Linked DNA regions of Homo sapiens: all the other regions are linked to region 1. Evidence: fine-mapped expression QTL. A gene starts in region 1. Each other region holds a variant in brackets. All regions are shown on one strand. Distances are from middle to middle. Region 1 holds the start of UBE2Q2 (ubiquitin conjugating enzyme E2 Q2). Region 2 overlaps SNX33 (sorting nexin 33). Region 3 overlaps UBE2Q2 (ubiquitin conjugating enzyme E2 Q2). Region 4 overlaps NRG4 (neuregulin 4).

What was found. PIP is the estimated chance that this variant, and not a neighbour inherited with it, causes the effect.
Region 2: its variant is the best candidate, but not a certain one, in a credible set for the expression of UBE2Q2 in spinal cord (GTEx, PIP 0.79).
Region 3: its variant is the best candidate, but not a certain one, in a credible set for the expression of UBE2Q2 in whole blood (TOPMed, PIP 0.89).
Region 4: its variant is the best candidate, but not a certain one, in a credible set for the expression of UBE2Q2 in monocytes after interferon gamma (Fairfax 2014, PIP 0.74).

Annotation. Positions count from the first base shown.
Region 1 is chr15:75,840,461-75,845,609 of GRCh38, reverse strand. UBE2Q2 (ubiquitin conjugating enzyme E2 Q2) reads right to left here and starts at 2,163. Exons shown (of 13, transcript NM_173469.4): 1 at 1,764-2,163. The coding sequence starts at 1,943. RefSeq lists silencers at 1,353-1,752, 2,003-2,082, 2,223-2,362, 2,403-2,582 and an enhancer at 1,184-2,081.
Region 2 is chr15:75,649,202-75,654,350 of GRCh38, reverse strand. It overlaps SNX33 (sorting nexin 33), which reads right to left. Exons shown (of 2, transcript NM_153271.2): 1 at 3,778-5,149. Among named protein-coding and RNA genes, the nearest start is that of SNX33, 3.9 kb to the right of the region's middle. RefSeq lists enhancers at 261-812, 813-1,365, 2,330-3,266. The variant CA/A (reference allele first, on the strand shown) is at 2,345.
Region 3 is chr15:75,897,157-75,902,305 of GRCh38, reverse strand. It overlaps UBE2Q2 (ubiquitin conjugating enzyme E2 Q2), which reads right to left. Exons shown (of 13, transcript NM_173469.4): 13 at 1,228-2,879. The coding sequence ends at 2,848. Among named protein-coding and RNA genes, the nearest start is that of FBXO22, 4.1 kb to the left of the region's middle. The variant T/C (reference allele first, on the strand shown) is at 2,218.
Region 4 is chr15:75,980,990-75,986,138 of GRCh38, reverse strand. All of the region lies in intron 3 of NRG4 (neuregulin 4), which reads left to right. Among named protein-coding and RNA genes, the nearest start is that of NRG4, 29 kb to the left of the region's middle. The variant C/A (reference allele first, on the strand shown) is at 2,839.

The DNA of each region.
Region 1 (5,149 bases):
CCTGGATGAAAGATACATTCTCCCAACTTACCTGAGTAAACTTAGTAGCTCCCCACAGCCTACAAATTCAGTCTCCTATCATTCAAACCAGCCCTACCTTTTCGTGGCCATGCCCCAACTTCTACCAGAGTAATCACCCTCGAAGCCATTCAGGCCCGTCTCCTTAAAACACCTGCTTCATGACAACTACTACACTTTCTGTTTTCCACTCTTGGAAAATCCTCCCCTTCTCCAGCCTGTATCGTGGGCTTCTCAAGTCTTAGCATAAATTTTCTACTTCTAAGGAAACCACACTTTCTCAAATCTCCGTGTCTTCTTTGGGTGGAGTTTCCTCAGTCTAAAATGCCCTTCCGCCAGCCTTCCAAAATTGTAGTCACCTGTGGAAGCTCATCTCTAACTGTCTCAGCCTCTCATCAAAGCCTTCCCTGAAGCGCACCTCCCCCAAGTCAAAATTAGTTGCTTTGGCTTTCCTGATGATACCACAGGAGCTGTCACCTTATTGAACTCTTCCCCCAAGAAGACTGAGTTCTGAGAGCGAGGACGACTTCACTCAATTCTGCAACACTAGTGCCCAGAACACTCAGACGTATTCATTCAATAAATGAATTATCTCCTCAGTACAGCACTTGTCTTTTTTTTTTTGAAATTAACACACCTTCTGCCCAGATAGTCTGGTAACCATTTTAAGGTCAATTATAACATCAAGGTTTTTGCAAACGCCAGCCACCCTGCAGGCACTTGAGTACCCACTGACTCAACCAAAGGGAGTTAAAAACAAGACTTGGTTTTAGCCATGTTTGAAAAGGAGCCCGAAGCCACCACCTTGACGCCTATTATAACCAAGAGAATATTCTGCAGTTTGGACCAATATCCTACATCAATTTCACGACGAATAGCTTCACGATACACTTTTATGGAGAAACTTAATACTTCAATTCCTTTACCAAGCCTTGGGTTTCTAATGAGATTTCCGCTTAATGAGTGAGTTTTTAAAAGTGTCTTTTCGGCTTTGTGACATACGTGATCTTTCCGGGGAGCAGCCCTGGCGCGTATCTCCTTTCACCTATCCATTTTCGAGGCTTACACACAAGGGAGGGGCCACACGAATACACACTCAACACCACCTGCCGCAACGACGGTACTATGCTCCTTTCCAGAACACAGCAGCGCGCAGCCAGGCCCGGGGGAGAGGGGTCGCTCAAACAGCACCAGAGTCTGCATTCCAACTTTTCCTCCGTCAACGAGTCCATTCTCATTGTCAGTTTCTCCTTAAACGCAAACTTAAAAACAATTGGCTGAACAAGCGGGAAGAAGGAAAATCCGACTGAAAAATGAGGCGTTAAAACTTAAGGGCCGTTCCCCTTGCCGGCCTGGGCTCAAACAACAGCCGGAGCTGCGCCGCCCCGCCCCGCCCCGCCCCGGTCCCGGGAGCAGGCCGGCTGAGGGCGGCCATGGACCCCACAAGGGCTTGGGCCGCCGCGGACTCCCCCCTCGGGGCTAGGAGACGGGGACCGAGATGGGCCAGAAGCCCCCAAGCCAGCCCCTGGCGAGAAGCCGGAAAGACGCGCCCTCCGCCTCCTCCCACCCAAGCCTCGCGCAGTCCCAGCCCGGCCTGGGATGGGCAAGTCGCGGGGGAAAGGGGCGGGCCTGCCCCGCCCGGGGAGCCGGAGCCTCTCCGGGGCAGGCTCCCCTTTGTCCCGGGACTCGAAGCGCCCCCTCTCCGTCCTCGCCCTGCCCCGCGGGGCCGCGGCCGGGCGCCTCACCGTGATGTTGCAGTGGAGCGTGAGTGGCGGCGGCAGCGAGTGCGGGCTGCCCTGCTGCGGCACCAGGAACTGGCAGTGCAGCTCGTCCAGCTTCCAACTGACGATGCGGAATCGCTCGTGGTTCTTGTCGAAGATGGACGCCAGGAACTTCAGCTCGGCCTTGAGCCCTGACACGGACATCTTCCCCTCATCTCCGGCGGGAGGGGCGCGGAAGGGGAGCCGGGCGCGGAAGGGGAGCCGGGCCCGGAGCCGCCGTCACGGCCGCGACCGCCCCGCGGGGCCGGCCTGGGCCGCGCTCTCGCGGCTCCGCCTCGTCGAGCGCTGCTGGAAAATGGCGAGGGGCGCGGAAGCCTCGGCGTGTGGCGGCCTGGGTGGCGCTTCCTTTGTAACCGACTCCAGCGGCAGGAGGCGGCGGCCCCGCGGCTTAAAAGGGCAACAGCGACGCCGCCCCCGCTACCGCCTGGGAAAGGGCTGCCCCCACCCCGCCCCCGTCCCCCTCACCCTGGCGCGCCCTGCGCGCTCCGGTTTCAGCGCGTGCACGAGGCCAGAGCGCGCGCGCCCGGCCGCCCCCTCCTCGCCTTGACCCAGCTCCCTTGTTCCCGACCCATCTGCTCCGTTCTTCGCACCCGCGGACTGGAGGCTCGGGGCCAGCTGGCGCCCGGGCCCCAGAAGTCGGGGAGGAGCCGGAGACCCCCGCGCGCCCCCGCCCCCGGCCTGGAGCCGGACACGTGCGTGGCGGATCGCGCCGGCCACGTCGGCGCCGCTGCAGACTAGCGCCAGCCCCTGGGGGCGGCTCCTCAGCTTGGCGCTCGGCGCGGCACCCGCTAACCTCACTGGGGGGACCTCGTGGGAGACGCGGGTGCGGCTCACCCAGCGTTACCTCCGCTACTTTCACCCTAGTCCGAGCCACCGCTTCGCTAGCCTGGGTTCCTGTGAGGACCTTCTCACCAGCCTGGGTTCCTGTGAGGACCTTCTCACCGGACTCGCTGCTCCCGCCTTTGCTCTCAAACCATCCATTTACCCAAGACGATGGTTTAGCCCCTGGAGGCTGTTGCCTGGAGGTGTCCCATGATTTCATCCCTTCCCTTAGCTACCACCTGTGTTCACTCTGCCGTATATAGTCTCTCTCTCCCCCCTTTCCTTATTTTGCCTTGTTTCCCAAGCTTAAGATAACCCTCCCCACCCACACCCCCATGGAGCTAGGGCTGCCCACTATTTTCACTAAACTCATAGCTCAAATATCATCTCCGGCACCCCCCACCACAACCCATTTCAAATAGTCACCCTGTGTCACATCGTCCTGTGCTAAGTTTTTGTTGGGCACCTGTCACTATCTGATCTTTAACCCATTTATTCCTTGTCTCTGCCCCGTGTTAATGTGTTCAGAGCTGTATCCCCAGGACCTAGAACAAGACCTGTTATATAGTAGAAACCCGATATGATTGAATTGAATGCTCGCTCTTATCTGGAATCCCCACCACTAGCACAATTCCTGGCACATTGTAGGTGCTCAAAAAATGAATAAAGGTCTGGATAGCAGTCCAAAGGAATACATCCCAATTTGGCAGACAATAGTGTGTGCAATCGTAAGTGCAAGAGGCAGGACCAGCTGCATATGCGTCCAACCTATGTAGTTGCACAGTGCTCCCAGCTTAGAAGGGCTTCGAGCTTGGTTTAATATTCTGGTGTCGCCATTTTGAAATTCGTAATTTTTCAGAAAGGGGCTCCGCATTTTCCTTTTCCAGTCTTACCTAGAGTTACCCAACCCTGACACCTGTCTCTTTCTTCCTAATCTACAAGAGATCCCTGGGCTACTGGTCCCCTTAGATGACAAAATACAGAACAACACAGGGACACATTAAGTCTACTGAAAGTTTTTATTTCCATCTACTTCTGAGATTTTGTATCATGTTATAGTCCTTAGCCTTTAAGAAGACAAATAAACTTTTCCAATTTACCTCAGTAAGTTAGTAGCTCCCCACAGCCTACAAATTCAGTCTCTTATCATTCAAACCAGCCCTAACTTTTCCTGGCCATGCCCCAACTTCTACCATCTTCTACCCCAACTTCTATCTAGCCTTTAAGAAGACTAAGATTCTCACAGACCCCTTTGAGAATCTAATAAAAGCTATGATCCATCTTCCCAGGAAAATACTTCTGCATCTAAAATTTTGTACTTATGGGGATTCATGACCCCAGCACTAGAGCTACCACACTATACACTGGGACTGGGAGAAGAAGGGGTTCCAGGCCTGGGTTCTGAGCCAGAAACAACTAGGCTACTGTATTAGCATTATTGCTGGGTTAAGCACAGAAGTGGCTTGCCACTTTATTTTTCCTTCAGTCCCCAGTTTCTTGGGACCCTAACAGGCATGGCATTCCCAGATAAGGATTTGAGACAAAGAGCAACAAACTCTTGAGAAGTTGGTATGACTTCGAGAAACAAAATTCCCTAAACAAGCTATTTAATCTGTCTAAGCTTTATTTTGTTACCTCTAGATTGCTGTGAGAAAATAGAGCTTTTTAAATTGCAAGTGTTTTTACTAGTTGTATCCCAGAAATATATACAAATATTAATTTCACAGTCGCTTTTTGAGCATCCATCTGCTGCATGCCAAGCTGTAAGAGGGCTAGAAAGATACATAGATACAGTCCCTGATTTTAAGAAGCTTAACATTTAGCATCAAAAACAAAATATTGTTTCCTGATGCTTTTGGCTGCAAATAATAGAAAACTGTGATTTAATCTGCCTTGGACAATAAGGAAATAAATTACTTCACATAATAGGAAGTCCAAAGACAGAACAGTCTCCAGGATTGGTTGACCTGAGCTTTCATGTCATCAAAAGTCCAAATTCTTTCCATCTCTTTTGTTGGGTTGAGAGCAAGGTGGCTGTAGCTGTTCTTGCAGTTCACATCCAGACATGAAAATATCCAGAGGCAGAAAGGACATTTTCTTCTATGTTTCCTTCTAACACATGGGAAGCTTTCCAAGAATCTTCCCAGCAGACTTCCCTTAGTGTGTCCTTGGCCAGAAGTGTGTCACATGCCCACCCCTAACCAATCACAGAGAAGTAGATGGGATTACTCTGGATTTCCAACCTGCTGGGATGGAATGGTTGCTGGGGAGTCACCATAGTCTTACACAGACAAGTAAAGACAACATCAGATCATATGTGATATGAGGTTCAAACTACTGAACTACATTTCAGGGGAGGAAGAAACTAATTCCATGAATTATTTGCATGAAAGTAGGGCCATATTCAGAGGATATTCAAGAGCCCATTTGATTGTAGAGTACAGCAAGGGGCCAAGAGAAAGATAAAGTTGAGATATTACTTTTGATCAGATTTTGAGCCCTGAAATACCATGCCACAGACTATAGTA
Region 2 (5,149 bases), 190 kb after region 1:
CCCCACTGCCCAGTGGGACAGGTTGCACTAGATGTGATGCTGTTGACAACCTCTCACACGGTATAGTGCTTTAAGGAGTTTCCACATCTGTAAAATGGGATAATAATAGTACCTGCCCTATAGTATAGTTGAGGCTTAACTGAACTAATATGTACACAGTTCAAAGGAGCGCACCTGAGATACAATAGAAGCTCCAGATGCTACATGTTATGGCTTGAAAACTGCTTTTCTTTTCTTTTTTTTTTTTTTTTTTAATTTGAGATGGAGTCTTGTTCTGCTGCCCAAGCTGGAGTGCAGTGGCTTGATCTCGGCTCACTGCAACCTCCGCCTGCTGGGTTCAAGCAATTCTTCTGCCTCAGCCTTCCAAGTAGCTGGGATTACAGGCACCTGCCACCATGCCTGGCTATTTTTTTGTATTTTTAGTAGAGACAGGGTTTCACTATGTTAGCCAGGCTGGTGTCGAACTCCTGTGATCCGCCCACTTCGGCCTCCCAAAGTGCTGAGATTACAGGATGAGCGGTAGAGGGAAGGCTAGATGATGGCTCAGAACCCAGAGGCTGAACCCACCCATCCCCCAGGCAAGAACTTGTCCCTACAGTCGCCACTTTGCCTTGGCCACGCTGTCCCTATGGCCCCTCCATGGAAGCTCTGTGGTCCTGGGCCTCTCTCTAGCCCACAGGACCAGTGAAGGAGCACCCAAGCCTTCCTCCCTCCTCTTTCGCCTTCTGGCTCAGCTCTCCATCCCTGGGGATCCCCTCCCCCATCTGGGAGGGCACAGTGGAAACAGCCTGGGCTGCGGAGCCAGACACACTGGACTCCAGCTCCTGCTCTGAGGCTCATCTGCATCGCTGCACCTCGTCTGTAAAACGGAAGTGACCACATCGCCCTCCTGACCTGTCGTGAGCCTTAGGACCAGCCCCGCTCTTGCTGGCTGTCAAGTTGGGGGTCCATACGTCCCAGCTTGCCCTGGACAGTTACTTTCCCCTGTTGTCCCGGGATCACTATTGCTAGGGCCCCCTTTTATGCCCCAAACTGCCCTGGTTAATTATATGGTTACCCTTCTCTTAGGAGACCCCTGGATTGGGCTACAGGGACTAGGCCCGTGGGAGGACCAGGCTCCTCTCAGCTCCAGCCAGGGTTTATGTCCCATTTTATTTCATTTTATTATTTTTCTGAAAAGCATACAAATTTGTTTAATGTAAGTTTCACATGACATGGAGCCCTCCTAAGGAAATGAAGACCCTCGGGTCCCATTTTACTCACCTAGAGACTGAGGGGAGAAATCTCTCCCAAAGTCATGTCAGATGCAAAGTTTGTCCAAATCCTGGTCTCCTGACTCCCACCTAGGCCTCCACTGTCCTTCCTCCCACACACTCACCACCCATTCAGATGTCCAGACAGGCTGGACAGAATCCTGGGGGCCCAGGACCCAACTGTTCTTCTCTTTTCTTTGAGAAGGGCTCCACCCCTAAGGCCAGCATTAGGACCCCCTCCTTATCACTCCCATTGGGCTGTGGTCCCCAAAGCCTGTCCAGTTCTGTCTCAGTACCCCCTCCCTAACTTGCCCCACACCACAGGCCTGGGAGGAGCAGTGCAGAGCCCAGAACTTAGAGTAAGCCAGAGAGGGCTTGGCCCATTGGGAGGGGTCCTCCCGGGGAGGGAAGGCAGTGGGCTGGCCTCTGTTTCAGGTCAAATGCACCAGCACAGAGGACAGTGGCCTCTGACTCTTAGAAACACCTCAAGTAGAAACTCAGAAATGGCCTATCTCAGCTCTGTCTCTCTGCCCAGGGTCAGAAAGGCTGGTCTGGCTTCCCCCCAGCCTGGGAGGCCCTGGTGTCCTTCCTAGGTGTGGGGCTGCCCTAATGTCCTCAGCTCTGCTCTGGGTGGGGGGTCCCCAGCCACTGCATGGGAGCATCTGTTTAATCATTGCATTCCCCCTCCTGCTGCCTGCACAGGAACAAGCCATCTAAGGAGCTGGTTGAACCAGCCTTCCCACTTGTGCTCAGGGAGACACCTGCCCCAGTGGGCCCCCAGCAGGCCTGGCCACCTCCCCTGCCCTACTCCTGCCCCAGTGCTCAGAGCCAGAGCTAAGGTGTCATTCTGTTTCTGAGCCATACCCTCCCCAGGAGTCCCTTCCCACCCACTCCCTTGAAGGCCTGATGGCTCACTGGGACCCCATTCCCTTGTTTTACAGATCAGGAAACTAAGGCCCAGAGGGGCAAAGGCACTCCCCGGGGACGCACAGCAATCTAGGGGCAGAGCCAAGACTAGCACTCAGGTTTGTGTTTCCTGGAGTTCAGAGGAGGAGGAAGAAAGGTAGAGATGAGAGAAAAAAAAAAAAAAA[CA/A]GAAAGAAAGGAAGAGGAAGAGGATATAGCAAGGGGAGAAAGGAGGCTGGGAGCTGGAGAAGTTATAGAAGTCAACCTCTTGGTAAAGGAAAGCAAGGCCAGCTTACCCCAGGCCCTCCCTGGTGGTGGTGGGTGACATGTTTCCTGTTCCCCAGGCTCAGTGCAGAGGTCTGCCCCCTGGCCCCACCCAGAGTCAAACTCCCCACCAAGCCAGGTCTAACCTCAGGGCCCAAGGGCCAGGGAGCCAGCTCCACGCCCTGCAGACGAGTTACCAAGCAGCCCCAGGGAGGATCACACCTCTCTCCTGACATCTGCCCTCCCAGCTGTGCCCAGGACTCAGGCACCTGCTGGGGCAGCCACTGGCTCTCTCCTCAGGCAAGAAGAGAAGCCAGGCTTGGGAAGCAGGAGTTGGATAGGCCATGTGGACAGTGCCCTGGACCCCTGATTCTGCACCCCTGGCCCAGCCAGAGTGCCCCTGTGTGACCCAGGATGAGTCATTTCCCCGGCAGTTCATGGACAGCCCCAGCAGTAACAGGCAGAGGCCCATCCTGTCCCTCCCCCACAGAGGGGGTCATGAGAACTGAAAACATGGCTAGGCTTGGGAAGTGGCCAACATGGACGTGTCCTTGGGGAGGTGGCAGGAGGAAGGGACAGTCCCAGCCGGGCCACAGGCTGTGCAACCACTCTTCTGTGGACACTAGCTCCTTCATCTGCAAAATGGGGACAGGGATCTTCCTGCACACAGACAAGACGCTCATAAAGAGAATACACAGTGGTGAGAGTAGCTTCCAAAGCTGCAAAGGTGGGGAGGTTAACTTGCAAGGAGCACAAGACAGGCCCCCACTCTGAGCTCTTGTTATCTGGGTTGGGTCTGTGTCTCCCAAGGGCCTACCGGCTCCTCAAGGGCAAGGCCTGGGGCCTGGTCATCTATGTGTTCTCAGAACCCAGCATGACACCATGCATGATGGGTAAACGAGATGCAAACAGAGAAAATGAATGAACTGACAAGAAGGTAAATATCAAGCTCCATGAGGACAGAGACCGGGCCTGTGCACAACAATATCCCTGCACCTAGAAGCACATTTGCCACAGACACAGAGTTGATATTCAACACATTTGTTTGTTTGTTTGTTTGTTTGTTTGTTTTAGAGACAGGGTCTCACTCTGTCACCCAGGCTGGAGTGCAGTGGCACAATCGGGCTCACTGTAGTCTCAACCTCCTGGGCCCAAGTGATCCTCCTACTTCAACCTCCCAAAGTGCTGAGATTACAAGCGTAAGCCACCGTGCCCAGCCCAACACATTTGTTAAATGAATGATTGAGACAGAGAAATAAAGACAAGTTGCTCCATTCTATCCAGGCCATCCCCATCTCCCCAGGGCCCAGCAGAGAGCCAGACTCAGGACGAGTTTCCTGCCTGCACTGGGCCTTACCTTTTTGTAGATGGATGATGTCAGGGAAGTTGGAGAGCAGGCCCTGGTAGAGAGACAGTGTGTCCAGCATCTGGAAGAGGTCATTCTTGGGCTGCTCAGCAAACATCTCCCCGATGGCTTCATAGGTACGGCCCGTGTGAGAAATGGCACTGTTGAGGGCCTCAGAGCAAAAGGGGGGGTCCATCTGGAAGGAATGACTGATGGCCTGGAAGGCACTGCCCAGCTTCTGGAATTCCTTGCGGAAGCCCCCCACATGTTTACGCACCAGCTCTGATGCCACAGTGCTGAGCTGCAGGACGCTGTCGTCCATCTTCTTACTGAAGGCCTTGAAAGTGTCCACGCGATCTTCCACGTCCTGCAAGTCCTGGTGCTCGGTGGGGATCTGGAAGGTGAGCAGGAAGCTGGCACCCACCATCTCATCCTTCTCCGCCCGGCGTTTGCCCATCTTCCACTGCTTGTCATCCAGGCAGCTGAGGAAATGCTGGAAGCCTTCGTACTGGGAGAGCACAGGGTGGCTGGTCATGTGGTCCATCCAGAGGATGAGTCTCCGCTTCCGCTTTTCGATGAAGTCCTCCTCGAAGCGGCCAGTGGCCTGCTTCTCAGGCAGGTGGGGCACCGAGATGACAGTGAACTTGTGTAGCAGGCGGTTATAGAGCCAGTCAAAGTGTTTGTAGCGCCGGTAGACGGGTGAGGCAGCATGGGTGGGTGTGAGCTTGTAGGAGATGTAGCTTTTGATGCCCTTGAATTTGGTCTGTTTTGTGGGGTCCTCCACAGAGCAGGCAAATGGGTGGGGATTGGCCTTCCACTGGGGGCCACGAGGGCCCATTTCAATGGAGTATGTCTCAGCGATCTTGGCCATCATGGGCACATCACCCAGGATGAAGGCCTCCACTCCAGAACGCACAAAGCATGAGAAACGGTTGAGGTTACGGCCCACCACACTGCCTCGCTTGGCAGATGCCAGGCTGTCCTGCCGCTCCAGTGGTGGCTTGGGCCGGAAGGCCATGTGCTGGCTGGGGTAGGCACCAGGGTAGGAGAGGTTGAGGGGAGGGTGCCCGTTGGTGCCCAGCCCACCAGCCCGTGGCTCCTCCACCACTGTGCATCCGTCGTCCCAGTCATCCCAGTCATCATCATCATCCTCCTCAAAGCTACCCTGGTTTGAGAGGAAGCCACTGCCCCCACCACTCCTAGCTGGGCTGGCCACACTGGGGCTGTTGTACAAGCTCACCTGGGCTCCGGGAGAGCCTGCAGGGCTGCTGGAGTAGTCAGCATGGTTGGTGCTGATGCCAGAACGGACGATCTCCACATAAGAGGCAGGAAAGAGCCCTGTCTCCCCACGGCTGTTCTGGCCCTGCAGCCAGCCATCCAGTGA
Region 3 (5,149 bases), 57 kb before region 1:
CGCCCTCCAGTTACCTTTAGATAATTAACATAATGCTAAAATCCTCTCCCTAAAGAAAGCTCACTGGCATCTTACGAACATGGATGTATGAAGCAGCATGTTCAGGGACTATGCCTGCTTGTCTGGAACTCCAGTCTGTGCATGCCGTTCATACCTCCCCCGCCCCTCAGCTAACTCTTTAAACTCCCCAGCCTCCCATCCCTCTGGGAGAAGGTGCCTTTAGAGTATGAGCTCCCCTTCTCCATTCTCTGGCTACTGAATGAAACCTGACTGCCTTTCAAAGTGGGCGTTCTTTCTTTGTGGCTGATATAAAGTAGGGAAAGAGGACAGTTTACCAGTGACGGCATCACTACATTTTTGCAAATATTTAATTTGTCTTAATAGAAGACAAATAGATTCTCATATTTGCTTCTGAATTCAATCTGTTGCAAAATCACATCATGTAGCCTCTGGAAAATTCCATTGTACACATGGAAGAATGAGTGAAAATGGCAAATGTTTTAATATTATGAAAATAGTCTTTTAAAACCTCTTGAAATGGTCTCAGGGGTCTCCAGTGTTCCCCAAATAAGGCTTTGAGAACCATTTGTGCAAACTAATCACGATGGTTTCATTCTTTTCACCACCATTGGTTTAGGGGTGGGCACAGGTCCCTGATGTAGCCAAGGAAAGGCAAGAGGCAGTGTGCTTGATGGGATGGTGCTTTTAGAGATTTCCTCACCTCCTAAGGAGACACTAGAAGACAGGGCCATTTATCTACCTCTGGATCAAGTAAGGGGGCTGCACATAACATGCAACCAAAAGATGAAACCAACATAGAAAAATCTCAAGGAAGCAGAGCAAAGCCCAGATGTACAGTACCTGGAGTTGTCCTACCTCTGGACTTCTTGTATGTGAAATAATCTGTCAATTGTGTGCAAGGAGGCCATGGGTATGCTAAGGAAGGAGCAGATTATTTTCACTGGGGGAACTAAGGATAGCCATAAGGAAAAAGTAGCACTTGAATTTATAATGAGAATGGAAGAGGAAAAAGGCGGAGGAAAAGGTGACTATTGTACAGACTATTTCCAGGTTCTTTCACACTTTCACTTTCTCTTGTTAAATCTGCCTGTCTTCCAAGCCTCCCCTCACCACTTCCCTCCTTAAATATCTTATTCCAGAAACTCAATAAAGCCTACAAACACATCAAGCAGAGTTTTCTTATGAGGGAAAAATGAGAAAGTAATCTTTTTTTTGCTTGCCATGATCAGCACAAACAAAATTTTTAAATGGTTCTTTATTCATAAACTTGATGCAAGTTTACAAAATTTACTGTACATTGCCAAATAAATCTGCAATTAAAAATAAAATCCATTAAACAAAGCATGCCAAATGTGCAGCTATCAGTCTGCTTGCCATCAGGATATTAAAGAATTCAACAATGTATTCAAGATTTAGCCTTAGGCTTAAGGAACTTTACTGATTTAAAGAATTCTGCCTTGTCACTTGTTATCTGAGCAACTGGCAATCAGAACTTTATACAAATGTAATCAAGTGAACAAGAATACCAGAAAATCTATTTACTGCTCTCTTAACCAAAATGGAATCAAAAGAAATTAAACACACACAATGTAGAAATGACAAGTCTCTCAGATGTGGTTTACAAAGTTAAAAACTGAATCTCAAAGCTAATGCACAAGAAACACTTTTGAACTTTGTAACTTGTTTGTGCAGAAAAATGTGCTTCTGGATTTGTTAAAAGTGCTTAAGAACTAGAATTTACTTTTAAATCAAACGTGGGTGTATAAAAAAATCTATTACCAACCAAAAAGGACTGATTCAGGTAAGGCAATAAAATGGAGAGTACCTTGATTTGAGTCAGGTTCTATAAAAAAATTAACATATGTAGAGTTTCTATTAATCTTTCAATGTAAAAGCCATTGTTTTGACATGGCAAAAATTACTGTAAGAGTCTCCAAATTAAGTATCTTTTTGTACTTAACTGCACAGCTTTTGCTCAAGGAGTCTTTGTGCCAATCACTTTATAAGTTTATTAGTTTACAAACGATTGCAACATCCCGTTAATAAAATGGAAACGTAAGATGACTTAGTATTTTAAATAACTTGAAGCTCTGTACTGTGGCTCTTGTTCATAAGAAACACTGAACCAACAAGCAGCAGATTCAGCCCAGCCAAGACTCTGATGCCCCAGTGGAAATCACTACTCACAAGCCTTAA[T/C]TGATACAGTTTTACACTGCTTTGCCTAAGAAGTACAATACAACTCAATTAAGAGTATTATCTTCAGGAAACAATTCATATCTTCACATAGTCATTAAAAAGTTTAACAATTTAATGAGTAGGTTTCCTATCACATTTTGGCAATATCATAAAATGGTTTTAGACATGAAAGAGCTATTATGATTTAGAAGGCCTTAAATTTCCTAAACCAATATTGAACATCGATTAAACCTGTATTGGCTGTAAATGGAACAATATATTGCAAATCCTTGTAACCCATGGGCTCAATATAGGAAAGTTACCCTAAAGCCTCAACTTCAGTAGCCTGATGTTGACTTGGCTGCTTTAAAAAGTTCACTTTTCAAGAAAAAGAGATAAGGAGTGGCCAGTATGTGTATTTATCAGGAAAAATACAGTAAAGGCCCCACTGCTCAGTCCAAGATATCTAAAATGAGCAAAATGCAAAGGCTGTAACTTATACTGGATGTCAGATGACAGATTATCCACTAAAATATCTATTAACTAACATCTTCGGTACTGCTGTAATAGGGGCACTCAAAGCTTTTGTCTGCATGTTAGAAAGATTTTCTTTAAAGCAACATTAGTCCAAACATACAACAGTCAACACATTTAGCCATCTTCCTTTGGAGGGGTGTACCAGCCTGAAATAGAATGAAAAAAAAAAAGTTAAAATAATTCTTAAATAAATTAGAAGAACTGGCATGTAATAAGGTTAGCTACAGTCTCTTTTCATAATTTTGGTGTTTAAAATCTACCGTAAAAAATATATATATATATTATATATATATTTTTTGAGACAGAGTTTCACTCTGTTACCTAGGCTGGAGTGCAATGGCGCAAACTCAGCTCACTGCAACCTCCACCTCCCAGATCAAGCAATTCTCCTGCCTCAGCCTCCCAAGTAGCTGGGATTATAGGCATGCGCCACTATGCCCCACTAATTTTTTTTTTTTTTTTTTTTTGGTATTTAGTAGAGACAGGGTTTCACCATGTTGGTCAGGCTGGTCTCCAACTAATGACCTCAGGTGATCCACCCACCTCCACCTCCCCAAAGTGCTGGGATTACAGGTGTGAGCCACTGCACCCAGTCTACTCTAAAAATTAAACTTACACTTGGATTGGGAACACTGCATTTTGCTATTTCACAACAGAAAGTTATTTTCTATGAATAAATTGTACCTGAGTTTTCAACACAAGAGCTCTGTATTAATGGCATCTCTAGCTAAAGATGACTGTGGAATATTAGACTAAAAGAATAAGTTTTATTCCACTTCAGTTCTATACTTGAAAGTAAGCCTCATGGAAAGTACTTATTTCCCCAAACAAAATCCTGGCGATTTAGAATACAAGGAACTTGGACTGTTATCGGAGCCATAACGTCATTTCACAATGACAAGGAAGCCATCGCAGCAGGTGCAATGACTAAATGACTATGCCTAAAATCAGAGTTAGTAGCAGGCCAAACTAGAATCCATCTTGAGCTATTGTACAACATGGTGACTATAGTTAACAATATACTATATTCTTGAAAAATGTTAAGAGTGGATGTAAAGTGTCTCACCATAAAAATGATAACTATGTAAGGTGATGCCTAGGTTAATTAGCTAGATTTAGTCATTCCACAGTTATGTATACTTCAAAACTTTGTACACAGTAAGTATAATATCTATTTTTTTAAAATAACAAAAAAATTTTAAGATTTAAAAAAAAACAAAACCCTAGAAGTCATCTCCCCTGCTTCTGACTCTATTACTCTTTCATCACAGCTAAGCTTACACATACCCACACACTCTCAAATACAGCATTTTCTATAAATATTTTTTGAATGCCAGTTGTAATGGTTAAGAAATAAAAACAAAGATAAGAAGAAATCTGTGTCCCAGGTTCCGCAAAAACCTAAGCTCTCTATAAAAAGGCAAATTAGACTAAGTACTGTTTAGTATGAAACTTTAGAATAGTATGAATATGCCAAGATCTATAAAGTATCAAAGTAGTACACAGGTTTCTTTGGATCTAATTTTGTGTGCTAGAAATTATTATTATGAAAACCTGGCCTTGTCCTCAAATTTTATCGTTTCTCTCTTCTGCTTGAAAATTTTGTTTTGAATACTATTTCCATAAGTAAGCAATCACTGAAAGAGTGACAAGTTTGCTTTGTCATTAAAATAAATGAGCACAAAACACAAATCTTAAGTCACAAACTGACACATTTCTAGCAAAGTAAAGAATACTTTACAGGCATGGTGGCTTGTGCCTACAGTCCAAGCTACTGAGGAGACTGAGGCAGGAGGATCACATCAGCCCAGGAACTTGAGGCTGCAGTCCACTATGATCACGCCTGTAAACAACCACTGCACTCCAGTTATAACAACAAGAACTCCATCTGTAAGGAGTTGCCTTTAACTCAGTTCCTAATATTTCAAGTAAGTAAAGTGAGTCATTCATTAATCTACTAAAAAAAAAAAAAAAGAAATCTTGATTCTGACTCTGAGATACCTAGGCCAAGTGTATAGGATACAAAAATTTTGACTGAAGTACAATGTTAAGGTTTTGTGGTGCAGTGGCTTACACCTGTAATCCCAGTACTTTGGGAGGCCGAGGCGGGCGGATCACAAAGTCAGGAGATCGAGACCATCCTGGCTAACACAGGGAAACCCGGTCTCTACTAAAAATACAAAAAAGGCACCTGTAGTCCCAGCTACTCGGGAGGCTGAGGCAGGAGAATGGCATGAACCTGGGAGGCGGAGCTGGCAGTGAGCTGAGATAGTGCCACTGCACTCCAGCTGGGGTGACAGAGCGAGACTCCGTCTCAAAAAACAAATAAAATAAAATAAAATAAAATAAATAAATAAATAAATAAAGATTTTGTATGCAGCACAAGTTTCTTTCACCATGGTAACAGCATTTTAAG
Region 4 (5,149 bases), 140 kb before region 1:
AAGCTGATAGCAGCATATGTGGTCTAATTTTGGGTTCTTACCAATCTGATAGATGAGAAATGGTATCTCACTGTTACTTTTAATTCAATCTTTTGATAGGTGAGGTTGAGCCATATGTGTTTCCTTTTGTGTCAACAGTTTTTCCCTAGTTGTTCTATTAAGTTGTATTCTTATAGTAGCCATCGTAGAAATTGTTTATATAATAAAGATACTATTAAAAGCTATATTATCTTTTTGACTGAGATATGAGTTGCAAACATTCTCTTCTAGTTTGTCACTTGTCTTGTGATTTTTTTCTTGATAAATTTTGGCCATAATTAAGTTTTATTTTTTATTTTTACATACTTAATTTTATCAGTCTTTTATGGGTTTTGGATGTTGACTTATAATTTGATTTTTTATATTCAAGATGTGGAGAATAGAGTTGACAGAGCAGGTCTTAGACTGCTATCCTTAGAAAGGCCTCCTTGCGAAGTTGGCCGTTGCTGGTGTTTAGAAACTTAGTTGGCATACAGTTCTCTATACTTAAATGAAACTTTTCCTAAATGATAAGGATGTCTCCGTATGCCTGAACTGTATAAGCATTGTGGTTTATGCTGAATACCTGCTTTTCTTTTGGGAGTCTGGAATTTTGGTATATGCGAGGCAGAAGATACATATATGAACAGTTTCCATGAAAAATCTTGGACACTAAGTCTCTGATGAGCTTCCCTAGTAGATAACACTTCACTTAAATTGTCACAATTCATTACTAGAGGAATTAGGCTTGTTCTGTGTGACTCCACTAGGAGGGAACTCTTCGAAGCTTGTGCCTCATTTCCTTCAGACTTCATCCCATGTATCTTTTCCCTTTGTAGTTTTTGCTTTGTATCTTTTTGCTGTAATAAATCATTACTGTGGGTAAAACTATGTATTGAGTCCATTGAGTCTTCCTGGGAGTTATAATGGAACTTACCCTTATTTTTTTCCCTTTTGTTTAATTAAAGACTTTTTTGGCCTGGTGCAGTGGCTCATGCCGGTAATCCCAGCATTTTGGGATGCTGAGGCAAGCAGACCACTTGAGGTCAGGAGTTCGAGACCAGCCTGGCTAACATGGTGAAACCTAGTCTCTACTAAAAATACAAAAATTAGCCTGGCATGGTGAGGCGTGCCTGTAGTCACAGCTACATGGGAGGCTGAAGCACAAGAATCACTTGAACCTGGGAGGTGGAAGTTGCAGTGAACTGAGATTGCATCACTGCATTCTAGCCTGGGTGACAGAGCAAAACTCTGTCTCAAGACAAAACAAAACAAAACAAAACAAAAACTGCTTTAAAAAAAATTATTTGCCAATTTTTTAAACAATTTTTTTTATTATACTTTAAGTTCTGGGATACATGTACAGAACATGCAGGTTTGTTACATAGGTATACACGTGCCATGGTGGTTTGCTGCACCCATCAACTCGTCATCTACATTAGGTATTTCTCCTAATGCTATTCCTCCCCTAGCCCCCTGCCTCCCAGTAGGCCCTGGTGTGTGATGTTCCCATGCCTGTGTCCGTGTGTTCTTATTGTTAAACTCCCACTTATGAGTGAGAACATGCGGTGTTTGGTTTTCTGTTCCTGTGTTAGTTTGCTGAGAATGATGGTTTCCAGCTTCATCCATGTCCCTGCAAAGGACATGAACTCATTCTTTTTTATGGTTGTGTAGTGTTCCATGGTGTATATGTGCCACATTTTCTTCATCCAGTCTATCACTGATGGACATTTGGGTTGGTTCTAAGTAAAAAGACCCCTTTTAAAGGGCAGTTTTAGGTTCACAGCAAAATTGAGAGGACGGTACAGAGACTTCCCTGTATATACCCCCTGCCGTGACACATGCAAGGCCTCCCCCGTTATCAACACCACCAACCAGAATGGTACATTCATTACCATTGAGGAACCTGCATCAACACATCATAATCACCAAAGTCCATAGTTCAGGGTTCACCGATGGTGTTGTACATTCTATGGGTCTGTACAAATGTAATGACATGTATCCACCATTATACTATCATACCAGGTATTTTCGCTATCCTAAAAATCCTCTGTGCTCTGCCTGTTCGTCTCTCCCCTGCCATGTATTTTTTCAGGAACTTTTATCATTTTTGTTTTTAGATATTGGGGTAACATTTATATTCATAAATTAACTTAGGATTTAGATGTTTATAAGATTGAATTTATTTCATCTAGAATGTGTTTTAAAGCTTTCTTCCTATAGATATTGGGATAACATTTATATTCATAAATTAATTTAGAATTTATATGTTTATAAAGTTGAATCTATTTAGCCTAGAATATGTTTTAGAATTTCCCTCATATAGGTTTTACATATTTCTTAAATTTATTCTTAGTTATTTCATCATTTTGTTTGTATTGTGACTGGGGCTTTTCCTGCCTATCTTCTAATTATTGTCTGTATATAAGAAAGCTAGTGATTTCTTTATGTTAATTTCCCCTGCTATCTTATTGAGTTATGTTACTATTTGTAGGAGTTTTTTATTTTATTCCTTTGGGTTTTCAAGATGTATAATCATATCATCTATAAATAGCAATAGTTTTACTTATCTCCTTCTAATGGCTGTGCCTTTTATTTCTGTATCTTGTCTAATTGTGGTTAGGACCTTCAGTACAATATTAAATAATAGGGGTAGCAGTGAGTGTTTTTTACTTTTTATTGTTTTTTAACTTTGATGGGAATGTCTTTACTTTTTCCAGGAAATCTGATGCTAATTTTTGGCTGGGATGGATATATTTTATCATGCTAAGGAAGTAACTATATTTCTATTTTATTGAGGGTTTTTATTAGTTTTCAGAT[C/A]TCAATGTCTTTGTTTGTTTCTGTATCTCTGCTGAGACTTACCATTTCTCTGCTAAGACTTTTTATGCATTGTAAATATGTTTTGCTTCATTGAGGATAGTTATATTAGCGGCTTGATTCTTGTCTGTTTGTTCCAATATCTGGTTCGTCTTGGGTTTGGACTCAATTTATTTTCTTTCTCTTGAGAACATTTGATTTTTTGGTTCTTTGTATACTTGGTGATTTTGGATTGTTTCTGGGACATTAGGAGTTTTAGATTATGGATATTCTAAATGCTATTATTTTTCTGATAAGCATGGTTTCCTTTGTTTAGTAAGCAATTTTCTTGGCTGGGCTTCTACTGCAAACATGTTTTCTTATGTAGAAGGTCCAGTCTGTTCAGATGTTTTGTTTTTAGATGGTCTGTTTTAAATTTGTTCTGAGCCTACCTAGTTCAGGTGTCCGTTAGAGATGTGGGGAGACAGCTTGGGCTTGGGGATCCCCTCTTTGGCTCATGCTCACCCAGAATTCTCCTACTCTTTCAGCATTCATGGCTTCATAGCTTCTTTTTTCTAGTTCCTCAGATCAGAAAGAGTTCTTCCATGCAAGGCCCCCATAGCTGCTGTACTCACTAGGTGGCTTAGCCCCAGGCTAAAAGCTGCAGAAGCAGGAATTTACTTGTACTTCCTCCAAACTAGCGTGACCTCCCCTCCAGAATCTGTCTTTATCTCTTCATTCTCCTGGACCTTCAGGTATTTGCTTTTCATATTTTGTCCAAGTCTTTATAGTTTTCTGCAGGGAGCTAGAAGTGGTGGTCATTCTATAGCATCTTAGCTAGTCATACCCAGAAGTGGAACCTCTCATATTCCACTTATTGTTTTAAATCAAGAATGGCCATTGAATTTTATCGAATGCTTTTTTACAGTCTAAGGACATGATCATGTTTTTTTCTCTTTAACTATATCTACATGATGAATTGTATTATTAGTCCTGATTTTGAATCATTCTTGTATTTCTGGAGTATGGCCCACTTACTATTCTTTTATGGTCTGCTGATTCTTATTGTATTTTATTGAGGATTTTTGTGTTGACATTCGTGAGAATGACCTACGGTTTTCTTATTGGTACAATCTTTGTTAGGTTTTGGGATCGACAATATCCTTATTTCATTGAAGGAGTTTGAATATTTTTCTCCTTTTCTAAGTTTTAGAATAGTTTAGCATTAGAATTATCTAATGTTTAAAGTCTGGAAGAATTCTCTATGAAGCTGTCTGGATCTAGGTTTTCTTAGCAATAGTTCCTAAATTTGTTTTATGGAGAATGATCTATTTGAATTTTCTTCTCTGTAAATCAGTCTGTATTAGATTTTCTGTTTCTTTGGGGGTGATTTTTTTTTTGTAAGTTATATTTTTAAGCAAAATTTTCCAATTCATCCAGGTTTTCAAATTTATTGGTAAAGAATTTATCAAAATAGCCTCTTTTCTGATTTTAAAACATATTATCCATTTCTGTGGTTAAATTTCCTCTGGCATATCTTCACTTATATTTTGTAGTTTGGTTATCTATTTTGCATAAAAACAACCCTAAAAATCAGTAGCTTCAAAAACGACCATTTGACAGGTATTTGGGCTGGTCTCACCTAGGCAGTGCCACTCTACATGGTGTCATCTTGGGTCACTCACAGGGCTGCATTCAGCCTTCAATAGCAATTTCCTCATTGTACTTGCAGCTGCTACTAGCAGTTTCCTTACTGCCCCTTAGGCCTCCACCTACTGCTTGGTCCAAAATCCAATGCCACAAATTTTTAAGTTTTTAGTTACACAAACACCTTACTTCTAGGATTATCTGTTTCTGTGTAACATACTACCCCAAAACTCAGTGGCTTAAAATAGCAACCATATTATAATTTACTCAGAATTCTTGGGAATTCAAGCAGGTGATGCTGGGTGGTTGTTCTCCTCTACATGGTATTGGCAAGGGTTACTCAGGAGCTGTGTTCAGCTGGGTATTTGGCAGGATCTGAAACATTTAAAGTAGATTCAGGTCTCTCTCCCCAGAGGATAGTCAGACTTCATACATGGAGACCAAAAGGGAGTATTCCAATAGACGACAGTGGAAGCTGTTGATCTGTTAATGCCTAACTTTAAGAATTATGAAGCATCATCTACCATATTCTCCTTGTCAAAGCAAGTCATAGGGCCACTGAGTTTCAAAGGGAGGGGAAATAGACCCCAGCACTCAGTGAGAGGAGTGACAAAGAATTTGTGGCCATCTGCAATTCACCAAATGTGCTTTCTCTCAAGTTCATTTCATTTCATTTTACTGAGAACCA